Linked DNA regions of Homo sapiens: region 1 is linked to region 2. A link means that fine-mapping ties the variant in region 2 to the expression of a gene that starts in the linked region. Tissue or cell type: whole blood. Region 2 holds a variant in brackets; the other region holds the start of a gene. All regions are shown on one strand. Distances are between the middles of the regions.

Evidence for each region. PIP is the estimated chance that this variant, and not a neighbour inherited with it, causes the effect.
Region 1: it holds the start of WASHC1, and the variant in region 2 is fine-mapped to the expression of WASHC1 in whole blood (TOPMed, PIP above 0.99).

The regions. Positions count from the first base shown.
Region 1 is chr9:25,177-33,359 of GRCh38, forward strand. WASHC1 (WASH complex subunit 1) reads right to left here and starts at 4,280. Exons shown (of 11, transcript NM_001378090.1): 1 at 4,136-4,280. It overlaps MIR1302-9HG (MIR1302-9 host gene), which reads left to right and starts at 4,483. Exons shown (of 3, transcript NR_197460.1): 1 at 4,483-4,706; 2 at 5,166-5,269; 3 at 5,582-5,715. It overlaps MIR1302-9 (microRNA 1302-9), which reads left to right and starts at 4,968; the gene lies at 4,968-5,105.
Region 2 is chr9:188,915-197,097 of GRCh38, forward strand. LOC105375943 (a long non-coding RNA gene) reads right to left here. Exons shown (of 3, transcript XR_001746595.2): 2 at 3,322-3,439; 3 at 1,800-3,038. Among named protein-coding and RNA genes, the nearest start is that of ZNG1A, 14 kb to the left of the region's middle. The variant AT/A (reference allele first, on the strand shown) is at 4,652.

The sequences.
Region 1 (8,183 bases), 160 kb before region 2:
AGATGGGACTCTGCTGATGCCTGCTGAGTGAATGAGGGAAAGGGCAGGGCCCGGGACTGGGGAATCTGTAGGGTCAATGGAGGAGTTCAGAGAAGGTGCAACATTTCTGACCCCCTACAAGGTGCTTGCTACCTGCCAGGCACCCTTTCCATACCTTGTCTCAGTTCAGCTCCCCACCTTGGATAAACAAGAAACCTTGGTTGCAGAGGAAAAAAGAGGCTGGAAACAAAGGGGTAGAAATGGGGTAGCAGGGGAGATTGCCTGATCAACTGCCAAATGGTACACAGTTCTGGAAAAGCACAAAAAATGTGCACACACGGGTTCTTCCCACTTTAACCCCTGAGGAATCTGAGGCCTGCTCCTGAAACAGACTGGGCAGTGGCTAGTGACTCTAGGTATAGGAGTATCCAGCCCTGCTCACCCAGGCTAGAGCTTAGGGGGACAAGAGGAAAGAGGTGCCTGTGGGGGTGGAGGACAGGAAGGAAAAACACTCCTGGAATTGCAAAGTGAGGGCAGAGTCTATTTATATTGGGTTTAATTAACTCCTCTCCCTGGTGCCACTAAAGCAGCAATCACACTGCAGACAGCACTGATTTGATTGGCAAGAGATGCACCAGGCAGAATATTAAGGGACCAGGCCCCTATAAATAGGCCTAATCACAGCCCCTCACTGGAAAATGGTAAGGAAGACATTAATCAGGCCTGGCACTGTGCCCTAGACCTGCTCCCCTAGGCACTACAGTGGGGCCCTTGGTTGCAACACAAGTAGGTATGGATGGATGAGTGTGGCATGAAGGGCCTAGGAGATTTCACTTGGGTTTAAAATGCTGTGACCTTGAGTAAGTTGCCGTCTCTGAATCTGATCCTTTCGATTTCCCATTCTCCAAACTGAGAACTAGCACTGCTGAGACGTGGTTATTTCCAATAATAATTTGTATATTTTACATAACGCACCACACCAACATCTTCACCCAGTTGGAGCCTACTCCTTTGCTCCCGCTGCTGGCTTCCCCAGCCCTCCCTTCTGCCCTCCTCAGGCCAGCACTTTTCAGTGAGTTCCTCCTTTGCATACAGGCTTTCCAGATCTGTACTTGCCTTGAATACTCATCAGAGCCCAGGAGTTACTCCTCACCTCCCACTTATTTTTCCTCCCATCAAATAACTAAAGCATGGCCAGCTGATGCCCAGCCAACTGAGAAACCCAACCCTCTGAGACCAGCACACCCCTTTCAAGCATGTTCCTCCCTCCCCTTCTTTGTATTTATACTGATGCAAGTTTGCTGGCTGTCCTAACTTATTTCTGTGCCTCAGTTCTCCCATATGTAAGATCACAAAGGGGGTAAAGATGCAAGATATTTCCTGTGCACATCTTCAGATGAATTTCTTGTTAGTGTGTGTGTGTTTGCTCACACATATGCGTGAAAGAAGAGTACATACACAGATCTCCTCAAAAAGGAGGCAGCAAGCCCGTTCAAGAATGGGACTGAATACACCTGATGAGTGGTTTACTTTCTGTCTGCAAACATCTACTGATCATCTGTTAGGTGCAGGCCATGATCACAACAAAGACGAATAAGACACTACACTAGCCAGGGAGAGTCTCAAAAACAACTAAACTCAAATTAAATTCATTCTACTCCAGTCATGGGTACAAAGCTAAGGAGTGACAAATCCCTCTTGGAGTTAGGGGAGTCAGGAAAAAGCTCTTAGCAGAATGTGTGCCTCTCGGCCGGGCGCAGCGGCTCACGCCTGTAATCCCAGCACTTTGGGAGGCGAAGGCAGGCAGATCACCTGAGGTCGGGAGTTCGAGACCAGTCTGACCAACATGGTGAAACTCCATCTCTACTAAAAATACAAAATTAGCCAGGCGTGGTGGTGCAGGCCTGTAATCCCCGCTACTCGGGAGGCTGAGGAAGGAGAATCACTTGAACCGGGAAGGTGGAGGTTGCAGTGTGCCAAGATCGCGCCATGGCACTCCAGCCTAGGCAACGAGGGTGAACCAGGTCCAGGAAGAAGGTGCAAAGACAGCATTCCAGGTAAAAGAAACAGCTTGAACAAAAAGTGTGTAGGGGAACCGCAAGCGGTCTTGAGTGCTGAGGGTACAATCATCCTTGGGGAAGTACTAGAAGAAAGAATGATAAACAGAGGCCAGTTTGTTAAAAACACTCAAAATTAAAGCTAGGAGTTTGGACTTGTGGCAGGAATGAAATCCTTAGACCTGTGCTGTCCAATATGGTAGCCACCAGGCACATGCAGCCACTGAGCACTTGAAATGTGGATAGTCTGAATTGAGATGTGCCATAAGTGTAAAATATGCACCAAATTTCAAAGGCTAGAAAAAAAGAATGTAAAATATCTTATTATTTTATATTGATTACATGCTAAAATAACCATATTTGGGATATACTGGATTTTAAAAATATATCACTAATTTCATCTGTTTCTTTTTACTTTTAGAAATCACATATGTGACTTAAATATTTCTTTTCTTTTTCTTTCCTCTCACTCAGCGTCCTGTGATTCCAAAGAAATGAGTCTCTGCTGTTTTTGGGCAGCAGATATCCTAGAATGGACTCTGACCTAAGCATCAAAATTAATCATCATAACGTTATCATTTTATGGCCCCTTCTTCCTATATCTGGTAGCTTTTAAATGATGACCATGTAGATAATCTTTATTGTCCCTCTTTCAGCAGACGGTATTTTCTTATGCTACAGTATGACTGCTAATAATACCTACACATGTTAGAACCATTCTGACTCCTCAAGAATCTCATTTAACTCTTATTATCAGTGAATTTATCATCATCCCCTATTTTACATAAGGAAATGGGGTTAGAAAGACCAAATAACATTTTTTCAACATCAAAACACTAGCTTGAGATCAAGCCCAGACTTGGATCTGTCGTCTGAATTCCAAGCTTTTTGTTATTTATTGATATGTTTTGTTGTTTTCATGCAATAATGCAAATATTAGCCCAAACATTTTGTTAGTAGTACCAACTGTAAGTCACCTTATCTTCATACTTTGTCTTTATGTAAACCTAAATTAGATCTGTTTTTGATACTGAGGGAAAAACAAGGGAATCTAACACTAACCAGCCCGTAGTGTGTGGTCAACACTTTCGTTACTTTAGTATACATCACCCCAATTGTTTGTCTTCACCACACACTTTGGAGTTAGGTAGTAGTATCTATTTTTACAAATAAGAAAACCCAGGCACAAAGGGGTTGATTAGCAATTATCTTTTGAAAAGCCTGTAGTTGCTCATCTGAAGAAGTGACGGACCACCTCTTATTTAGTGGACAGACAGTAACTAGTTGAGAAGACAGGGGATTTTGTTGGCGGAAAAAAAATTTTATCAAAAGTCGTCTTCTATCAGGGAGTTTTATGAGAAACCCTAGCTCCTCAGTTCCACAGTGGGTAACTGTAATTCATTCTAGGTCTGCGATATTTCCTGCCTATCCATTTTGTTAACTCTTCAATGCATTCCACAAATACCTAAGTATTCTTTAATAATGGTGGGTTTTTTTTTTTTTTTGCATCTATGAAGTTTTTTCAAATTCTTTTTAAGTGACAAAACTTGTACATGTGTATCGCTCAATATTTCTAGTCGACAGCACTGCTTTCGAGAATGTAAACCGTGCACTCCCAGGAAAATGCAGACACAGCACGCCTCTTTGGGACCGCGGTTTATACTTTCGAAGTGCTCGGAGCCCTTCCTCCAGACCGTTCTCCCACACCCCGCTCCAGGGTCTCTCCCGGAGTTACAAGCCTCGCTGTAGGCCCCGGGAACCCAAAGCGGTGTCAGAGAAGTGGGGTCCCCTACGAGGGACCAGGAGCTCCGGGCGGGCAGCAGCTGCGGAAGAGCCGCGCGAGGCTTCCCAGAACCCGGCAGGGGCGGGAAGACGCAGGAGTGGGGAGGCGGAACCGGGACCCCGCAGAGCCCGGGTCCCTGCGCCCCACAAGCCTTGGCTTCCCTGCTAGGGCCGGGCAAGGCCGGGTGCAGGGCGCGGCTCCAGGGAGGAAGCTCCGGGGCGAGCCCAAGACGCCTCCCCGAGCGCGGCTCCAGGACCCCGTCGACCCGGAGCGCTGTCCTGTCGGGCCGAGTCGCGGGCCTGGGCACGGAACTCACGCTCACTCCGAGCTCCCGACGTGCACACGGCTCCCATCCGTTGTCTTCCGAGCGTCAGGCCGCCCCTACCCGTGCTTTCTGCTCTGCAGACCCTCTTCCTAGACCTCCGTCCTTTGTCCCATCGCTGCCTTCCCCTCAAGCTCAGGGCCAAGCTGTCCGCCAACCTCGGCTCCTCCGGGCAGCCCTCGCCCGGGGTGCGCCCCGGGGCAGGACCCCCAGCCCACGCCCAGGGCCCGCCCCTGCCCTCCAGCCCTACGCCTTGACCCGCTTTCCTGCGTCTCTCAGCCTACCTGACCTTGTCTTTACCTCTGTGGGCAGCTCCCTTGTGATCTGCTTAGTTCCCACCCCCCTTTAAGAATTCAATAGAGAAGCCAGACGCAAAACTACAGATATCGTATGAGTCCAGTTTTGTGAAGTGCCTAGAATAGTCAAAATTCACAGAGACAGAAGCAGTGGTCGCCAGGAATGGGGAAGCAAGGCGGAGTTGGGCAGCTCGTGTTCAATGGGTAGAGTTTCAGGCTGGGGTGATGGAAGGGTGCTGGAAATGAGTGGTAGTGATGGCGGCACAACGGTGTGAATCTACTTAATCCCACTGAACTGTATGCTGAAAAATGGTTTAGACGGTGAATTTTAGGTTATGTATGTTTTACCACAATTTTTAAAAAGCTAGTGAAAAGCTGGTAAAAAGAAAGAAAAGAGGCTTTTTTAAAAAGTTAAATATATAAAAAGAGCATCATCAGTCCAAAGTCCAGCAGTTGTCCCTCCTGGAATCCGTTGGCTTGCCTCCGGCATTTTTGGCCCTTGCCTTTTAGGGTTGCCAGATTAAAAGACAGGATGCCCAGCTAGTTTGAATTTTAGATAAACAACGAATAATTTCGTAGCATAAATATGTCCCAAGCTTAGTTTGGGACATACTTATGCTAAAAAACATTATTGGTTGTTTATCTGAGATTCAGAATTAAGCATTTTATATTTTATTTGCTGCCTCTGGCCACCCTACTCTCTTCCTAACACTCTCTCCCTCTCCCAGTTTTGTCCGCCTTCCCTGCCTCCTCTTCTGGGGGAGTTAGATCGAGTTGTAACAAGAACATGCCACTGTCTCGCTGGCTGCAGCGTGTGGTCCCCTTACCAGAGGTAAAGAAGAGATGGATCTCCACTCATGTTGTAGACAGAATGTTTATGTCCTCTCCAAATGCTTATGTTGAAACCCTAACCCCTAATGTGATGGTATGTGGAGATGGGCCTTTGGTAGGTAATTACGGTTAGATGAGGTCATGGGGTGGGGCCCTCATTATAGATCTGGTAAGAAAAGAGAGCATTGTCTCTGTGTCTCCCTCTCTCTCTCTCTCTCTCTCTCTCTCTCATTTCTCTCTATCTCATTTCTCTCTCTCTCTCTATCTCATTTTTCTCTCTCTCTCTTTCTCTCCTCTGTCTTTTCCCACCAAGTGAGGATGCGAAGAGAAGGTGGCTGTCTGCAAACCAGGAAGAGAGCCCTCACCAGGAACCTGTCCAGCTGCCACCTTGAACTTGGACTTCCAAGCCTCCAGAACTGTGAGGGATAAATGTATGATTTTAAAGTCGCCCAGTGTGTGGTATTTTGTTTTGACTAATACAACCTGAAAACATTTTCCCCTCACTCCACCTGAGCAATATCTGAGTGGCTTAAGGTACTCAGGACACAACAAAGGAGAAATGTCCCATGCACAACGTGCACCCATGCCTGGGTAAAGCAGCCTGGCACAGAGGGAAGCACACAGGCTCAGGGATCTGCTATTCATTCTTTGTGTGACCCTGGGCAAGCCATGAATGGAGCTTCAGTCACCCCATTTGTAATGGGATTTAATTGTGCTTGCCCTGCCTCCTTTTGAGGGCTGTAGAGAAAAGATGTCAAAGTATTTTGTAATCTGGCTGGGCGTGGTGGCTCATGCCTGTAATCCTAGCACTTTGGTAGGCTGACGCGAGAGGACTGCTTGAGCCCAAGAGTTTGAGATCAGCCTGGGCAATATTGTGAGATTCCATCTCTACAAAAATAAAATAAAATAGCCAGTCATGGTGTCACACACCTGTAGTCCCAGCTACATGGGAGGCTGAGGCGGGAGGATCACTTGAGCTTGGGAGATCGAGGCTGCAGTGAGCTATGATTGTACCACTGCACTCCAGGCTGGGCGACAGAGAGAGACCCTGTCTCAGAAAAAAAAAAAAAAGTACTTTGTAATCTGTAAGGTTTATTTCAACACACACAAAAAAAGTGTATATGCTCCACGATGCCTGTGAATATACACACACACCACATCATATACCAAGCCTGGCTGTGTCTTCTCACAAATGCACTGCTAGGCACCACCCCCAGTTCTAGAATCACACCAGCCAGTTCACCCTCCAGATGGTTCACCCTCAACTTCATAAAAGTTCCCTACCTAATCTACTGACAGGCTCATCCCCGACCTAATTTTAAAGATTTCCTAGGAGCTGCAATGGGAATCCTGGACCTCAGCCTGGACAAAGAACAGCTGCAGGTCATTCTCATGTGTGGACACAGAAGCTCTGCCTGCCTTTGCTGGCCAGCTGGGCTGAGCGGGCCTGGGAATTAAGGCTGCAGGGTTGGTCCCAGGCAGTCTTGCTGAAGCTTGCCACATCCCCCAGCCTCCTGGATTTGCCAGGATCCAAGAGCATGGACTTTAGGAATTCCTGGTGGAGGAGTGAAGAAAATGTGACAGGGTGTCCTAAGCCCCGATCTACAGGAAGAAAACTGGAAATAAGACTGAGGACTTAGTTTAAGATGTTCCTACTCAGCCTCTAGCTTTTGTGCTACAGTTCTGGGAACAGACTCCTCTCTCCTGAAAACCACTTCCCTCCGCAGCATTAAATTTCACCAAGATGTCTTGCTTGTGGGAAAGACTTCCAAGGATGCCTGGAGAGAGGAGGATGGAAATGTCCTGCTCTCTAAACAGATAGACAGATGCAGCCAGACAGAAAATAGTTTATCTTGCTGAGGTTTCTAATGTATTTGAAAGAGGCCTGGGTCTAGAAGTCTACCCAGAGGGCTCTGTGTTGTGCACGCAAAGATAAGAACCTTCCCTGTGGGAGTTCCAGAGCCAATTTTCCTAAACACCCATCGGTGACTGTGTTCAGAGTGAGTTCACACCATCCTGACCTGCCCTGAGTTAGACCTTACATGGTCTTCCTCCTCTAGGAAGCCTCTGCAGCCCAGGAACCTCCCCTTATCGGAAATGAACAGCATTTGAAGCTTCACCCGACAGACCAGACAGCTTAGCCCTCGTGTTGTGCCATGTGGGTTGTTCTCTGAGAGGCAGGAGAGCATAGTGGTTACTAGGAAGGGAAGGACTTTGGGACTAGACTGCCTCGGCTGGAGTCCTCTTTCTGCTTCATAGCCACGTGATCCTAGGCATGTTACCTGTGCCTCAGTTTTCACTCTGTCAATATGTAATAACTGAATCTGTCTTTGTGGTGAGGATTCAGTGAGTTAACATATTTGAAGTGCTTAAAAATGAGGCTTGTGTCCATAGATTAATGAGTGAATACACAAATGGTGATATGGACATACAGTGGAGTATTAGTCATAAAAAGGAAGGCAGAGCTGATCCATGGCACCATGTGACAGAACCTCAAAAGCATTAGGTTAAGTGGAAGAAGCCAGACACAGGTCACCTATTGTGTAATTCCATTTATAGGAAATATACAGAATATGTAAATCCGTGGAGAAAGAAAGCCGATTTCCAGGGGCTAAGGGGAGGGGAGAATGGGAAGTGGCTGCTTCATGGGTACAAGGTTTCATTTTGAGCTGATGAAAATGTTTTGGAACTACATAGAGATAGTGTTGGCACAACATGGTGAATGTACTGAATGCCACTGATTGTTCACTTTAAAATGGCCAAACTTATATGAATTTCACCTCCATTAAAAAAAAAAAAAAAGGACCAGATGTGGTTGCTCACACCCATAATCCCAACACTTTGGAAAAAGGTGAAAGTTTTTTTTTCTTTTTTTTTTTTATATACTTAAGTTCTAGGGTACATGTGCATAATGT
Region 2 (8,183 bases):
CCAAAGTCCAAAGTCTCATCCGAGACAAGGCAAGTCCCTTCCACCTACGGGGCTGTAAAATCAAAAGCGAGTTAGTTACTTCCTAGATATAATGGGGGTACAGCATTTGGTAAATACAGCCATCCCAAATGGGAGAAATTGGCCAAAACAAAGGGGAAACAGGCCCCATGAAAGTCTGAAATCCAGTGGGACAGTCAAATCTTAAAGCTCCAAAATGATCTCCTTTGCCTCCATGTCTCACATCCAGGTCATGCTGATGCAAGGGGTTGGTTCCTATGGTCTTGGGCAGCTCTGCCCCTGAGGTTTTGCAGGGTACAGCCTCTCTCCAGGTTGCTTTCACGGGCTGGCATTGAGTGTCTGTGGTTTTTCTAGGTGCACAGTGCAAGCCGTCCATGGATCTACCATTCTGGGGTCTAAAGAACAGTGGCCCTCTTCTCACTGCTCCACTAGATGGTGCCCCAGTAGGGACTCTGTTTGGGGGCTCCAATCTCACATTTCCCTTTCACACTGCCCTAGCAGAGGTTCTCCATGAGGGACCCACCCCTACCGCAAACTTCTACATCTTCTGATATCTAGGCGGAGTTTCCCAAACCTCAATTCTTGACTTCTGTGCACCCACAGGCTCAAAGCCATGTGGAAGCTGCCAAGGCTTGGGGCTTGCACCCTCTGAAGCAACAGACAGAGCTGTACTTTGGCCCCTTTCATTCATGGCTGGGATGCAGGGTATGAAGTCCCTAGACTGCATACAGCAGAGGGACCCTGGGCCCAGCCCACGAAACCACTTTTTCCTCCTAAACCTCTGGGCCTGTGATGGGAGGGTTGCCATGAAGAACTCTGACATGCCCTGGAGACACTTTCCCCATTGTCTTGGGGATTAACATTCAGCTCCTTGTTACTTATGCAAATTTCTGCAGCCAGCTTGAATTTCTCCTCAGAAAATGGGATTTTCTTTTCTAGCACATTGTCAGGCTGCAAATTTTCCAAACTTTTGTGCTCTGCTTCCCTTATAAAACTGAATACCTTTAACAGCACCCAAGTCACCTCTTGAATGCTTTGCTGCTTAGAAATTTCTTCTGCCAGGTACCCTAAATCATCTCTCTCAAGTTAAAAGTTCCACATATATCTATGGCAGGGGCAAAATGCCCCTAGTATCTTTACTAAAACATAAGAAGAGTCACCATTGCTCCAGTTCCCAACAAGTTTCTTGTTTCCATCTAAGACCACCTCAGCCTGGACTTTATTGTCTATATCACTGTCAGCATTTTGGGCAAAGTCATTCAACAGGTCTCTAGGAAGCTCCAAACTTTCCCACATATTCCTGTCTTCTGAGCCCTCAAAACTGTTCCAACCTCTGCTTGTTGCCCAGTTCCAAAGTTTCTTCCACATTTTCAGGTATCATTTCAGCAGCGCCCCACTCTACTTGTACCAATTTACTGTATTGTTTCATTTTTATGCTGCTGATAAAGACATACCTGAGACTGAGCAATTTGCAAAAGAAAGGGGTTTATTGGACTTACAGTTCCACATGGCTGGGGAGGCCTCACAATCATGGCGGAAGGCAAAAGGCACATCTCACATGGAACCAGACAGGAGAAGAGAGCTTATGCAGGGAAACTCATCTTTTTAAAACCATCAGATCTCGTGAGACTTTTTCACTATCCCGAGAACAGCACAGGAAAGACCTGCCCCCATAATTCAATTACCTCCCACCGGGTCCCCCCACAACACATGGGAATTCAAGATGAGATTTGGGTGGGGACACAGCCAAACCATATCACCCCCCCAAAAAAAATCCCGTTTAGATTTTTATGTTTATGAATATATGTATATGCATACATGTGCATGCAGAAAATTATAACAGAAAGATAGAGTATTACATAAGTAAATATGTATTTTTTATATGTACTGATTTGTAGAATAACAATTATAAGTGATATAAGGTGAAAGAAGCAATTTGTTCATAAGTATGTAGCATGATTCCATTTCAGTAAAAATTAACAAAAACATGCTTGTATGTGCATGGGCATATATTAATATGTGCTCATATATACATGCTATACATATATATATATGTATGCTGATATATGTATGTGGAAGCAATATGTTTGGGATGATACACACCCTTGCAATAACATGAACTACCTCAGGGAGTACTATAGATGACAGAGACAGTGGGGGAAGAGGAGCAATGTTACCTTAAAAAAAAACTTTGCATCCTATTACTGGTTACAAGAGGCATATAAAATTATTTTTAAAATTTTAAATAAATATGTTAGCAACCTTTGTATGGATGGAAAATTTTAAATATGTATGAAAATACTGATTGCGTATACCTTTTGAAATTCTACTGATAGGCATTTATCCTACATATTTACATATACAAACATTTATGACATTCATAGCACTATTGTTTTAAAGGTGAGATGTTGGAAACATCCTAGCTATTTAACTATAGGGGAATGACCAAATAAGTTTGGCTCACTCAAAGGATACCATGGAAGAGCAAGGCTTTGCATCGTATTTCGATATGAAACTGTTAGAAGCACCTTTATTTTGAATAGCCTCTAAGAAAAAGTTGGATAGAAAGAGTCTAAATGAAATATTCTGATTAATAACAGAACCTATACTATAAGATGGTGAATTTCTGATCAGAAAGGTGAAAAGTTCATCTATAGCTTAAGTGGACAAATTTAATTTTCTATAACATTCATATCTGATAGATTAAATAAACAGGTACAATTTCCTTAAGAAACATGCTTTATAAGTTTTATGGTCACTACATTCTTTAAAGTTAAAGGTTACATTCCTGGGAGATTAAATAAAAACTGCAGAGTTAACAGTTGACTTGCCTGAGGAGCTACTTGTTCTTCCTCAGTAGACATTGAAGAGAAAAGTAATGTAATACAACAGAAACAGAGCACGCACCTGGTAAACATGTAACAGCAAAAGGGGGTGCACAGGCCTTTGCCCTACCTGGCGGGTGTCCTCTGTTCGTTGTACTTCTGAGGTTGCCAGAATGTAAATGTTCATTTCACTATCTTAAATGAGCAGAGAAATAACCAGAATCAGACTTTGAATTCTAGAAGCTCTTGGATCAAGAAGATTCTGTCTTTCCAACGTTTGCATCAAATAACATCGTGACCTATACTATCTTTTTTAATATTAAGTGAAGCTTAATCAAAATTTTAGGTTTAAAATACAAGAGTCGTTAAAATGATACATCGTTAGGTAGAAAAACATGCAGAATAGTATGCTGTTTCATTTGGAGGGGAGGAAAAGAAAATAGAAAATGCTTAACATCACAGTTTTTATTTTTATTACCTCATGGAAGAACTTCTCTACAACCACTGATTTTCTTACTTGCTTTCTAAGCAATGTAGAATTTTAGTCACCACTTCACCATTAATTTCTTGTTATTAATCCATTGCCGTTTTCCCAGCTGAAAGAGAAAACTTCCTTTTAATCTTCTAACTCATTTTGAAACAATTTCAACTTACAAAAGTTACAAAAATAGTAGAGATTCACATATACCCTTCACTGTGTTTTCCTGAATGTTAATATCTTACTATCACTACCATGATCAAAAGCAGGTAATGAGCATCGATACGCTACCATTCACAAAACCAGAGACCTTATTCACATTTTGCCAGTTGTCCCACCGAAGACCTGTTTCTGGGCCAAGACCTAATCCAGAATCCCACATTGCATTCAGTTGTCACCTCTCAGTCTACTTTAATCAGAAGCATTGCTCAGTCTTTGTCTTCCAGGACCTTGACACTCTTGAGGAGTACTGGTCAGTTGTTTTGTAGAATGTTCCTTCGCTTGGATTTGTCTTATGTTTCAGCATGGTTAAATTCAGGTTATATATTTTTGGCAGGGATACTACAAGTTGATGTTGCATCCTTCTCTGTGCATCACTTCAGGAGGCACAAGACGTCCACCTGTGCTTTTACTAGAATGTTAACTTTGTCAGCAGGGTTCTGCCACAATAAAATTACTGTTTCCCTGATGCAGTTAATAAGTACCTGATGGGGAGATACTTTGAAACTATGTAAATGTCTTGTGTTTTCATCATACTCTAGCTCACAGTTGATCACCCATTATTCTTTTTCAAAATTACAGCTTTATTAAGGCACAACTTAGCCACTCATTTAAGTGTACAACTCAATGAGTTTTAATAACATTTATACAGTAGTGCCACAATCATCCCAATCCAGTCTTAGAACACTTTCACCATCCCAAAAAATTCCTTTGTGTCTGTGTACAATTAATCTCTTTAGCTTTGGCCCCAGGTAACCATTGGTCTGCCTTCTGTCTTTGTTTATACAATACACTGAATTTTCTCTCATTATTTACTTGCTTGCCTTTTTACTCTGAACACATATTAGTTTATGAGTGAGAAGACAATTTCTAACACATTGTTTGGTATATGACACAGGAAAGACACTGACCAGCCTGGAAGTCAAGAGAAATAATGGATTCTTTAGTGTCAGACTAAACATAAACTTTGAACATTCTAGATAGTAGCAGAACCTAAATTATCCAGTTGCCTTAGATCTTCAGTTAATTCATAAAAATAATTCCAATTAAATTCTTTCTCTGAATTTATAAAGTCAAAAGCATAACCTTTGATCCTTATATGCACAAAGCA[AT/A]TTTGATTTTATCATGTCAACATGCCTTAGAAAAATGGTAAGGTCCAGGGGTTTTGTTTCTTTGTTTTTTTCTTGTTGTCATTTTGTTTTGTTTTCCTTTGGTTTGTTAGTTTTGAAGGCCTTCACTCTTTGGTTTGCTGTTTAAAATTAGTTTCTTCCGGAGCCAATTTCATTAACCCAGTGAAATATAATTTCAAGGACATTGTGTCTTACCCACACCCTCCAAGGTATGTTTTATATAATAACACAATGTTGTTAAAATCAGGATAATTTTATTTTTAAAAAACGTATATATCTAGCATCTCTCAAAAGAAAATCCTTAGATCTAGCAGTACATGGCCCAAGTTTCCACAGCTGGAGCAAGTTGTGGCCATCCACTTTAGACAGAATATGTTCTTTGGTTTGCCAAGGCCCCACCTATTCCCTATTGAATCACATCACAGCTGCTTCATTCTTGTAAGCTCCTTATCTAGCCCTGTTGGACACTTGAGTTTGTTTATGTATTTATTTATATATAAATTTTTATTTTATATATATATATATCTGTATAACCACAACCACAGATGTGTGCATATTAAAATTTAACTATTTTCCATAGTTAAATTTTGGCAGGGATACTACAAATTGATGTTGTAGTATCAATTGGCAGGGATACTACAAATTGATGTTGCCAATGCCTCACCTATTCCCCATTGAATCACACCACAATAGCTTCATTCTTGTAAGCTCCTTCTCTAGCCTTTCTGGACACTTGAGTTTGTTTATTTAGCCTTAGTAAAGTAAAGCTCACTAATGTTAAACTTACAGGTATCCTCCCCAACACATAAATACCGAATACACTCTACCATTTCTATCTCCCCACACTTCCAACGTTTAATTTTGGTTAGATTATTTCTTTTTCATTATTATGACTACGTAAACAATATCCACAGATGAGCTTTATAGTATCCTCTGATTCTTTTTTCATTCCTACTCAACTTTTTATTTTCCCTGAAATTAATAATTTTATGAGTTATAATTTTTAATGAGTTTTTATTGTAGTTTTGGTTGCATAATACCATATATTTATCATTAATTCATTCCCAAGCTCTTAAAAAGTTGCTTAAATCTCCTTTTCGTATGTTCAGATGAATCCAGTATTCTTTTAATTTCATTTTCTTCAAGAAATCTATCCTCGGGTCTTGTGATCTGCTCTGTGTTGGAAATTGTTGCCCTTTATGTTACATGCACAGCTCAGGGATCTTGCTGCAGATTCCCTTTTCTTCTGTCTTGTGCTGAATTCCCTTGATTCCTAAATCCTATGTTTTCCTCTTTCATAATTTATACCTTTATTTTTTGTAGAGCACATCCTCTAGTAGCTTCCTGAGAAAAAGCGTGCATCGAGTGAACTCTTTGAGACCTTGCATATCTTAAAATGTTTTTAGTATATACATAGATTCAGTTGATGGGGTGGCTCGTTCAGTAATCAGGCTATATTAGGCTATGCTACAGCAACATATCCCTAAAGTCTTAGTGGCTTAATATGAGAGGAGTTTATTTCTACTTGCATCCCAGACCAAAGCAGGCCAGCTAACACTCACACAAGGCTACTTTCATTGGGCAGTTCCAGAAGTTGGGAGTCCTTCACTTCAGCTGTCAGAATGAGGGGGTGAGAGTGCAGAGAAGGCACTACTACTCTTAATTGTCTCAGACTAGAAGTGGCTTCTTATCCCATTCATACTCCTTTTGTGACTATTATTTATACTATCTGGTCTAAGTCCACAGGGACTGGCAAATGTAGAGATGAATATTTGTTTACTTCATATCCTCTGACACAGTGAAGTTGAGAATTCTGGGTTGGAATTCTTTTCTCTCTCTCTTTTTTTTTTTTTTTTTTTTTTTGAGACGGAGTCTCATTCTGTCACCCAGGATGGAGTGCAGTGGCACGATCTCGGGTCACTGCAACCTCCACCTCCTGGGTTCAAGTGATTCTTCTGTCTCAGCCTTCTGAGTAGCTGGGATTACAGGCATGCGCCACCACGTCTGGCTAATTTTTGTATTTTTAGTAGAGATGGGGTTTCACCTTGTTGGTCAGGCTGGTCTCAAACTCCTGACCTGGTGATCTGCCCTCTGTGGCCTCCCAAAGTGCTGGGATTACAGGCGTGTTCCACCATGCCCAGCTAATTTTTGTATTTTTAGTAGAGACAGCGTTTCACCATGTTGGTCAGGCTGGTCTTGAACACCTGACCTGGTGATCCATCCTCCTCGCCTCCTAAAGTGCTGGGATTACAGGCGTGAGCCACCATGCCCGGCCTCTTTTCTCTTTTGAATGTGGTAGGCACTGCTCTGTGTCTTCCAACTTCCAGTCTCCAAATTGCTGGTGAGAAACCAGTTTAATTATTGACTCTTGGGTATGACTACTTCCTGTCTTCTGAGCACGGAAACACATAGGATTTTCACTTTGTTTCCAGTTTTTGTAGGCTGAATTGTGTCCCCCGCCCCACTTTCCACCAAAATTCACTCAGTGAAGCCCTAACCCCCAGTAGTTTAGAATATGACTGTATTTAGACGTGGGGCCTTTAAAGAGGTAATTAAGGTAAAATGAGGTCTAATGGGCAATTCTTAACCTAATATGACTGGTGTCCTTTTAAGAAGAGGAGACGAGGACACAGACAACAGTGACCAAGGGAAGACAGTATGAGGACACAACTAGAAGACAGCCATCTGTGAGCTAAGGAGAGAAGCGTCAGGAAAAAACGAAACTGCTGTCGCCTCGATCTTAGACTTCTAGCATCAAGAACCATGAGAAAACAAATTTCTGCTGTTCAAGCCACCCAGTCTGTGGTGTTTTGTTACTGCAGCTCTAGCAAACTAATATATCGGTATTTTAAAATCGCACAAATAATGTGACTTGGGATGGGTCTAACTCCATTCTTTTTTTTTTTTTTTTTTTCACTCGAGTAGTCTGTTACAATCTGAGAACTCATGTCCTTGGATTTTCTGGAATTATTTTATTGATTATTTCCTTTCTTCTCTTATCTCTGTTGCTCTCTGTGGATCGCCTCTTATTTAGATGTTGGACTTCTTATTTTAGTCCTTTAATTTTTTTCTTTTTCTTTTCTAACTCTCATTTTCTATATTTTTGCTCTGCTTACTGGGAGATTGGCTCCAATTTATCATCCAAACTTTCTCTGAATTTTTTATTCTACTATTATTTATTGTTCAAATTTCCCAGAGCTCCCTTTTTGTTTCTTGAATGTCCCTTTCTGAAACAGCATAAGACTGGTTTGTGGGTGCAATACAATATCTCCTCTTACGCCTCTGTGGATATTTTTTAAAGTTGTGAATCAATTGAAACTTTTTACTTTTTACTTTTATTGGTACATAATAGGTATTTATATTTATGGGGAACATAAGATTTTTTTTTTTTTTTTTTGAGACGGAGTTTTGCTCTTGTTGCCCAGGCTGGAGTGCAATGGTGCGGTCTCTGCTCACTGCAACCTCCGCCTCCCAGGTTCAAGTGATTCTCCTGCCTCAGCCTCCCGAGTAGCT